2 separate regions of the Homo sapiens genome follow, and region 1 is linked to region 2. A link means that fine-mapping ties the variant in region 2 to the expression of a gene that starts in the linked region. Tissue or cell type: whole blood. Region 2 holds a variant in brackets; the other region holds the start of a gene. All regions are shown on one strand. Distances are from middle to middle.

Region 1 (5,000 bases), 430 kb before region 2:
TCAGCCTTCCAGAAAGCCCTCAGGCATAGAACAGTTCAGCTAAGTTCTTTGCCAATTTATAACAAGGATGGTCTTTACTCCATTTTCTTGTACCTTGTTCCTCAGTTCCATCTGAGACCTTGTCAGAATGGCCTTTACTGTCCATAGTTCCATCAGCATTCTGATTATGACCATTTAACCAATTTCTAAGGAGTTCCAAACTTTCCCTGTTCTTCCTGTCTTCTCAGCCCTCACTAGAACCTAGGCTTTTTCTAGACTGCTGCTTCATTCTTGTAGCCTCTGCTCATTATCCAGTTTCAAAGCTGCTTCTCCATTTTCAGGTATTCGTTTTCGTTAACACCCCACTCCCGGTACTAATTTCTGGTCTTGTCAATTTTCTGTTGCTTAGAACAGACTACCTGAAACTAGGGTGATTTATAAAGAAATGAATTTATTTCTTACAGTTCTGGAGAATGAAAAGTCCAAGGTCAATGGGCCACCCTGCTGGTGGGGACTCTGTGCAGAGTCCCAAAACAGTGCAGGGCATCACATGGCAAGGGGGCTGAGCCTGCTAACTCAGGTCTCTCCTTCTCTTCTTATAAAGTCACTAGTCCCACTCCCATGATAACCCATTAACTCATTAACTCATGAATCTATGATTTTAGTGCCCTGAAATACTGGGAACTTAGAGAATAATAAAGAAGTAAAGTAGGAATAGGTAGATGGGGTGGAGAGGAGGAGAAAGAGAGCAGAGATTCCTTCCTTCTGACCTAGCAGACATTCCCAAGACATATGGACTTGTTCCAGTTATATATTGCTGCATAACAAATCACCTCAAAACTTAATGGCTTAAAACAACAATTTTTAATTATTATCTTCACAGCTCTGGGGGTTGGTTAGCCAGTTTTGCTCAGGGTCTCCAATGCAGTTGCAGCATCTAGAGCTAGCATCATCTCTCACTCATGTCTGGCACCTAGTCTGGGAAGATTCTAAGATCCAGGGCTAGAACAGCTGTAGCTCTTTGGTCATCTCCTTTTTTCTTTACATGGTCTTTCTGCATGGTTTCTCCAGCTTCAGGGTAGCCAAACTTCTTTTCAGGCAGCTCAAGGCTTCAAAGGTAAGTGTCCCAAGGGAGAGAGCCAAGTGCAATCTGCATTGCCTTTTCTAACCTAGTCTCAGAAGTCAAGGCAGTCACAAGTCCAATCCAGGTTTAGGGGAAGCAACAGACTCCACCTCTTGATGAGGGGTGCACCAAAGAATCTGTGGACATATTTTAAAACCACCAGAGAACTTCACACGCCTCTCTGGCAGAAAATCCAGGACAGAATAATGAGTCATTCACGAAACCACAAATTGCTTCACTGTGGTTTCCCTTTGGCTATGGGGGAATAGTGCAGTGTTTAAAGGCTCCTGCTCTGGAGTTAGGCTGCCCGGGCTTGCCTCTGCCCTAACACTTACTAAACCTGGAACCTTGAGCAGGTCTTGGTACCTCAGTTTTCTTACCTGTAAATTGGGAACAATGAGAGCTAACAGTTGTTGAGCACTTACTAGGTGTCAGACATTGTCCTAACTGCATTATGTCTGCTCTCCTTTTATATGTAAGATAACTCTATGAGGTACTTATCTATTAATACTTCCTAAGTCGTAGGATTGATAATAAAAGAGGCATCTTCCAGGTCTGTAGTGTGGATCAAATGAGACCATCTATTATGTTCGCTCTTGGCATTATTAAAGCTGTTGGGGGAAATTCTAGTGATGCCTGGCCAGTAGAGTGAGCCGTTTCCAGAAATTGACCCAACGTACACAATGCCACACAGCGTGCAGACTCTTCCCAGTACAGAGTGGGAGCCAAGATGAGGGCTGCGAGGGCCAGGTTTCTTGACAGGTGTCAAAATTTCATAAAAAGGCCAGTCATTCCGGTTCTCATTGGTGGCTATGGGTACAGAACCCGGAACAATCCTGGAGAGTGGGATTACAAGCACCGTTTTGAGTTTGCAGAAGGAGAGTGTTTATATAGCTTCTCTGGAAAAGGAAGCCATGACTCCGGGCGGTCGGAGAAGGTCTGCCGGGAGTACACCTGCCCTCTGCCTGAAGCGTCCCCAAGTGTCCCGGGCCCGCGTCGTTGCCGGATGCACAATGCTGACACCCTTCCCGGGGGCTTCCAGTGTATTCTGCCTCCTCTTGTGTTCCCGTTGCCACCCTTAGCTCCCTGACTCTTCCAGCCACCTTCCCCTCCTCCCTCTTCCCTGAGGTGCCTCCTCGGGCGATTCCAGAGCGCCCATCTTCCCAGTCCGGGCAAAACCCGGAGAGGTGGAATCCCTCGCCCGGAGCGCCCCGGCGGCCACTGGGCATGCTCCGTTGTCAGGCAAGTTCGGGGCTGCAGGCAGCTTGCGCGCCGCGCGGATTCCAGCTGCGGTCGCGCGTACTCCTCCTCCCAAGTAGGGAGCGGGCGCATGATGGCGGCCGCGGCGGCAGCGGCTGCGGGGAGCTCCAGCAGCGGCGGCGGCGGCGGCGGCAGCGGCAGCAGCAGCAGCAGCAGCGACACGTCCAGCACCGGCGAGGAGGAGAGGATGCGGCGCCTCTTCCAGACGTGCGACGGCGACGGGGACGGATACATCAGCAGGTACGCGGGGAGGTACGAGGAAACCGACAGGAGCGAGATCAGTCCCTCCGCGCGCCCTTGACCCCTGCTCTGCCCCCTCGCCCCAACTTGCGGCAAGTTGCTCAGAAGCTCGCGGGAAAAGTTGGCCGCGACTCCGAGAGCGCGTAGCCGGCTCGGCCACGAAGGCCGAGGGGACTGCTCTGTTCGCCTTGCGGGGGTGCCAGTTGGTCCAACTTTTCCCAGCGCTGTCTTTGTCTAGGCGTTGGGAGACATCTCCTTAGGATGCGCACTCTTCCGGGGGCTTGGAGTGTTCTTCCCTGTGGGAAAAGGAGTTCTGGCCGCTTGTCCCAGGTAGGAGGGGCTGCCCCACAGCCTCGGGGTCCTGGGCATCAAGATGCCGCAGCACGGGGCAGCGATCTGCCCGGCGGCTTGGTGGACACCCCAGGGCCGCACCGGGAGGAGATGAGCTAAGCGACAGCCTCGGACAGGGAAATAACCTGTGAAGAAACTTTCTTGTGCCGCAGAACCCATGAATTCCAAACTTCAGAGCCCAAAGAATGGGTATCGTTTGCCACCCAGTATTGATTTAAACGCAGTAGCCTGAGAGGAACGAAGCGCTCAGGAGCAAACTAGGGCTAGACCCGACTCCTACCCGGCTCTGTGCGCTGACCAGGTGAGCTTCGGCGTGGCTCCGGGCGCCTCCGCGCCTCCACTCACAAACAAACTTTGGGGTGTTTGCTTCGGATCCCCCGCACTTCCTACAGAGGCGGTATTTAAGCTTCCTGCCTCCCGGCTTGGCCAAATAATTACTTCTGCCCAAATTTGTGTCACTTAGACTCTTGTGGTGAAGAAGGCAATCGCAACATTTTCTGGTATGCTTCTATTGAATGGTTGACACCGGCCATTGAAGACTTGGTATCCGTGGAAATTTGAATTGCCTTGGATGAAGGAGCAGCCTAAGTTGTGCATTACATGTTTCTTTAGTCTATGTCTTGGTGATGCTAAAGATCGTTTCTGAAAATCCGGGGCTGCTTCCTGATTGTCCCTGCCTACCTAAAAAAAAAAAAAAGAAAGCAAAGTGCGGAATTTTTCCCTTAAAATAAAAAAAATTATTTATTTGGGACTCAACGCAATTTTGATCATTCTTAGGTGAATTTTTATTACTTTGCTAAAGTTTTACTGAGAAACATTAGGAAGATATCAGAAAACTTGATGGAGTAATTCTGTTCGGAAATGAAAATAATATGTAATTCTGATTGACTCCATGCAAATTTCTATCTGGAAGTCTCGTTATTTTGGTTCTGGGAGTAAAAGAAATTTCATTATATAGTTTTCCTTTTTGTTGTTTTCCTACTTGAAAGGTTATTATCTCATTTGCAATAATAAAGGCAAACTCCAACTTTGGATACAATTTTTTTTTTTTTTAGACAGAATCTCGCTCTATCACCCAGGCTGGAGTACAGTGGCGTGGTCTTGGCTCACTGCAACCTCCGCCTCCTGGTTCAAGAGATTCTCCTGCCTCAGCTTCCCGAGTAGCTGGGATTACAGGTGCCCACTACCACTCCCGGCTAATTTTCGTATTTTTAGTAGAGAAGGGGCTTCACAATTTGGCCAGGCTGGTCTCGAATTCCTGACCCTAAGTGATCCGCCCGCCTCGGCCTTAGGAAGCGCTGAGATTACAGGCCTGAGCCACCGCTCCCCGCATGGATGCAAAAAAGTTTAATTTCACACGGGCAAGAGTGCATACAGAAAACTAGCAGCGTGCTATCCTTTTCTAATTTGGCCTATTAATATATTGCTTTATCTGAACTACACTTTCTATATAAATGCTCACATTATTTTCGGTGATTCTACCCGGGAGGATAATGAATTCTGTAAGCGTAATTTGAGTAAAGTGGGTGGTGATAAAGAAGCCGTTTTGGATTAGAGTAGAAACTGGCTGGGGCAAAAGTGGAAAAAGTTGTTAACATTCCTTGAGCTGCATTACTTTAATGTGTCTGCTTAAAAGTTTCAAGGTATGTGTAGTAATGAACCCTAAATCATAACTTTAACTGTGGGTGGAGCTGCCCTGAAAATTATGCTGTGGCAGAATTGCCATGTAGGAGAAGTTTAGGGATGGCAATCTAGGGCAACAAGGAACTTGTCTGGAAGTGTGTTTACCTGGTAAGCACAGTTTTACCTGGAATTTACGTTTATGTGGTAAGACTTGGGGAATGGGGCTAATGAAGGTAAGGGGCATTAAATGATTCCCTCTCTGAAGCCACTTTTCTGTGCTGCTTTCATTTAATGACCTGTACTTACCACTCTGTAGTGGGTGATGTGGTTTGGAGGGTTGTGCATTCCTGTTCTATCAGACATGAGAGTTGGACTTTTTAACATTAAAACCTTAAAAACTTTGGATTCATCTAAAGACGTTAAA
Region 2 (5,000 bases):
AATGCACAGAGGAATGGCCAAATGGTAGACTTGTGGCTGAATGGGAGGAGAAGCCAGGAGCCTGGATCATTAGAAAAATCAGAGCGTGTTAGAGCTGGAAACAGAAATGTGGTGATCCCATTGGTTAACTCCTACACTTGTCCCTGAGGCCAGTGGAGCCCAGAGAAAGAGCAGAGAAATACCTTCCCACATGTAGCGTCTAAGTGATAGTGCCAGGCCCAGAACACAGATCTTCTCTTCGGCTGGGCACTGCCAATTCCCTTCCACAGTGCCACCTCTGCCCTAAGTAACAGAGTTAATTATGCATAGTCCCTCCCAGGCGTGCCTTGTCCAGGCCTATGTTGATTAATCCGTTGGCTTCTCTGCCACATAGGAGACCAGTCGGGGGATGAAAACATCACTCAGATGCTCAAGCGAGCTCATGACTGCCGGAAGACAGCTGAGAACGCTGCCAAGGCCCTGCTCATGAAGCTGGACGGCAGCTGTGGGGGAGCCTTTGCCGTGGCCGGCTGCAGCGTGCAGCCCTGGGAGAGCCTTTCCTCCAACAGCCACACCAGGTAATGCTCAGCCTTCTGCTCTGGGGTGGGCGTGTGTCCACATGGCATCTGTTCACTGGACTTGGTGTGCAGTGACCCAGCTCTTGGGGACTGTGTGGCTTGGGAAAAGGCAGACATGGCTTCTGGCATGCAGCCTGCTCCATCCAAAAAGGAGTCAGAAGATCAGAACAGAAGAGCTAGAAAGTGGCCCTCTCACTTTGCCAATGTGGAAACTGCAGTCGAGATTGGAGAGATTTGCTGTGGAAAGTGGTAGAGATGGAATGCAAACCTACCTTTCTGTCAGATCCATTTTCTCTGCATTGTTCTGTTCTCCATTTCTTTATAAGTCTTCATTTCCAGGAAGCACTTAGGGTAGCCAAGAGCCGTTTGCTCCAAATGGTCCCTCTGGTCCCAAGGCCCAGCCCAGCTCATCCTAGTTCCAGACATCACTCTCCTGTCTTCTTGTGCCTCCATCGTCTATAAGCTCTTCTCAGGCAAGAGCCTCTCCTCTCATCTCTTTTGCCTCATGGAATGATGCCACATTCACAGCACATGCTTACAGGCACTCAGTCATGAACCTGAGGTCAAGTTCACTGTCTGTGAATCTAGGAAATTAAAGTGGGTGCTTGAAAAAGGAAGCTAGGAAGAGAGCGGCGAAGACCTTGCAGAGCATAATTTGCTGAAGTCATTTCATTCTTTGGATGGGAGTGGAGAGTCAGAACAAAACCCTTTCTACTTACCTTCTCATTTCTTGCCACCAAAGCCCTAAAAACACGAATGCCTTCCCTTTATTTACCAGTCCTCAGTTTAGAAGACACTTTGTTAGAGATTCTTACTTAATTGCCAAATCGTGAAAGACTTGGAAGGGTAACTTACTCCATTTTCACAGGTTAGGAAACCTTGGCTCAGAGATAATGTCAGTGACCTGCCTGGTGATAAGAGGGAAACCTGGATGGGAACCCGGGATCTTAGCATCGAGCATATTGTTCTTCCCACATTGGATCTCATGACATAACAAAACAGTGTCTACTTGCAGACTAAGTGACCAGAACTGCATAAAGATAGATTGACTGTTGAGAGCCAGAGGAGAAATACTGATGCTTTCTTGGTGCTGGAAAGCAACTTAATGTTCCCCTCTCTCTTTCTCCCCTGGTGGGACCCGCCATCTACCTTAGCGCTTCCATTTACCTCTACTGGCCCAGGTGTCCCAGGAGAGGGAACATGCCCAGTAATGCACTCAGCCAGGTGCCCACAAACAAAAGGGACTTGATTCTTCTTTACTTCAGCAACAATTGTCTCATTCAGTGAAGCACAGATTATAATTTTTTTCATAAAACCATATTCTACTGTGTAAACACAGAAAGCAGATGCTCTTCTTAATGACTCTTCCAGATGTGTATAATCTATAATTTGTGTGTTTATTTAGTATAGAAATGTAGTTCTCATGTTGTCAGTGATGCTGTGTTGTTTTATTAGTGAACATAAGAGTTTGCTTGAC[A/G]GGAAATGTGTGCTGTTTCAGTAGCTTATGAGGTTTGTGCTACGGATCATTTGCTCAAACCTCCCTACCCCCAAAAAGAATGTTGTGGTTTTATTCTGAATCAGAGACAAATTTAGAACCAGTCAGGAGGGAGAACAATTTTATCACCATCTATTTAGCTTTTGAATATTTGTTAGAAGTACTTGAACTTACAGGTTAGCCTTGATTTTGAGACTGTTTTCTTAGAGAAATTTAATTTGGGATCCTGTTTTTCTGCAGATTGAGATAAATTCAAAACACAGAGTCATTGTTTCCAAGGATAACCTCACCAAAGAATGGTTCTTAAATTAATTTCAGTCTCAAATGGATCTTCCCATCAAAGTACAGAGGTCTTTAGCTCCAATGTCACCCAATTCTCCTTAAAAAATCACTTTTACCCTCCCGCCCAAATCAGAGCAGCTCCGAGGATGGAAGAACCACACACGAGGCATTCATTTGTCACTCCACATTCTTAGAACCTGATGCAATTAGACTGCTTTATGTTAAACGTGGGTTTAGAATAAAGTCCCAAAGCACCAGACCCCTTTCATAATTATGATAATTATAGTAATTTTGTTTGTAAATCTTGCCATTCTGGCTCAGACATTCCCCCTTGTCAAGTTTATGAAAATAAAGAAAAGGATCTTTCTGAGTTGGAGCTTTATGTGGCCCAGCAAATCTCCTTTCCCCCCGCTGTAACCACCCAGCTTCAAGAGGTCTAATCAGAGTGTCCATCAACTGCCCCTCAAGGGTTCAGGAAAGAAACGCTGAGTATTGTGCCTCCAGCGGCATTTCTGGCAGCCCATAGGCAGCTCCTAACGACAGGAGGGTTAATGGTTTTAGAGAGGAGCAGCAGAGGGGTAGTTAACCAGCAAGGAGAATAAAAGTGATAGCCAACCCTCAGTTGACTGTTGGCAGGTGCCCAGGGTCGGTGCCACTTCATTTTTGAAAAATATAGCCATGGCCTCATCAGAAAGTATAATAGTCTTATGGACAGAGTGACTAGGTTGATTGCCTGGATGGCTTTATCAACATATCATGACAAAGAGGCACAAGGACTAAAATGTTAGGAAGTGGAAATAGGAATCCTTGGTCAAGCCCACCCTCTGTGGCAGGCCTCACAGTTCAGCTCCTTCTGTGCAGCGTAGTCATCGATCTCAATCCACAAAGGAACTGTGGCCAAGACAGGATCGGCCACAGCAAGTCTGTACTCTCAGAGACTGAAATTGAGTCCCTTGTCTCAGCACCAGGTGGGGACCCTGGAGAGCTGTGAGAATGGTGGTTGCAGCCTTGCCGTGAGCCTCTAGGTACCTCCAGGTAGCCAGGGTGCTGCCTGTGTGGCCACTCACTCTGGGGTGTAATCCCCAAGTTGGACTGGACAGCAGCAGAGCTCAAGAGATGCCTAGCTCTCACTCTTTGAACTAGTCTGGATTAAGGTAAAGTTTCATTGGGGCAGAAAAAATGGTTGAGGAGAGTGAAATCATGTCCATTGAAAGGGTGAATTTTTTGAAACAGCCACCTAGTTAGAACAGGCATCAGTAAGCTTCAGGGAATGAGAGTCAGACTAGATCTGGCTGAAACAGTCATCTTTACTGAGGAGAGGTGCTTTTCCATCTGTGTGTCAGGAGAGTCTATCCAAAGTCCTTGAGACAAACGCTTACTGGTGTTAGTGAGCTCTAGAGACCAGCCCCGACACATCCTTGACATGACAGCATTATGATCAGTCCTCCTGCTCAAATGTCCTCATCACTTACCTTTTAGGTTCTATGAGAACAAGGTATAGACATGGAATGCTTTTTATGGTTTTTTTTCTAGTGAGATCTAACTTCTTGATTTCAAAAGAACTGTATGTTTGTTGTAAAACTAAGCAATTAAAATGCCAGCATTGCAAAATGCATAGGATGGTAAAGTTCTCCATTCTAGGACTCTCACTGGAAAGGACATTGGACTGACCCCACTCATTCAGATAAATTTCAAATGCTCAGCAAAACAGATGCCCACCCCCAGGGCACTTTCCTTCTAAAAATGAGCTGCTAGGCCGGGCGCAGTGACTCACACCTGTAATCCCAGCACTTTGGGAGGCTGAGGCGGGCAGATCATGAGGTCAGGAGTTTGAGACCACCCTGGACAACATAGTGAAATCCTGTTGCTATTAAAAATACAAAATTTAGCCAGGCATGGTGGTACATGCCTGTAGTCCCAGCTACTCAGGAGGCTGAGGCAGGAGAATTGCTTGAACCCAGGAGGCGGAGGCTGTGGTGAGCCAAATCATGCTATTGCACTCCAGTGTGGGCAACAGAGTGAGACTCTGTCTCAAACAAACAAACAAACAAACAAACAAAAAGAGCTGCTCCTTGATGGAAATGAGATCTCAGCTAGGGCCAGGTAAGATGTTGATGAAAACTTCAGGAAAATGTCATCACGGATTTTCAAGGCAAAAGAAATGAAATGTCCTTCTAGCCTTCCACCAAGGCAAGCTGAGGAGGCTATGAAAAATGAATTTTTCTTCTAATGAGCAGGCTGGGGGACTGTCTTGAGGACAGAGGTGGGGCATGGTGGAGAGGGATAGAAGAGAGGATATTTGACGTCGATAGCTGGTTTGAACAGCTTCTCCTATAGTGGACAGGGTAGGTGGAGAGTGGGTCGGCCCGAACCGTCCCGAACCAGCCAGCCCCGCATTCCCACCAGGCTACAGGCCTGCTGTGTATGCTTTGTGCTGGAAGAGCTGCTGGCAATGAACAGATGCAGAGGAAAGCCAGCGTGACGGGAGCTCCAGCAGAGCATCACGGAAAGGAGAAACCCACACATCCTAGACTAGCTCCTCAAGAAGCCAGAGCAAGACACACATGTGTGGCGAGGGTTTTTGTCATTAGCCTTCCCCCACAGTCGCTCTCAGAGAACACAGACAGGCTCCTGTTCTGGAGAGGAGGAATAATGCAGCCACAGAA

What was found. PIP is the estimated chance that this variant, and not a neighbour inherited with it, causes the effect.
Region 1: it holds the start of MCC, and the variant in region 2 is fine-mapped to the expression of MCC in whole blood (TOPMed, PIP above 0.99). The same link has a PIP of 0.9 or more in blood mononuclear cells.

Annotation. Positions count from the first base shown.
Region 1 is chr5:113,485,847-113,490,846 of GRCh38, reverse strand. It overlaps MCC (MCC regulator of Wnt signaling pathway), which reads left to right and starts at 2,394. Exons shown (of 19, transcript NM_001085377.2): 1 at 2,394-2,602. The coding sequence starts at 2,433. RefSeq lists an enhancer at 2,201-2,495.
Region 2 is chr5:113,059,541-113,064,540 of GRCh38, reverse strand. It overlaps MCC (MCC regulator of Wnt signaling pathway), which reads left to right. Exons shown (of 19, transcript NM_001085377.2): 14 at 374-557. Among named protein-coding and RNA genes, the nearest start is that of DCP2, 85 kb to the right of the region's middle. The variant A/G (reference allele first, on the strand shown) is at 2,035.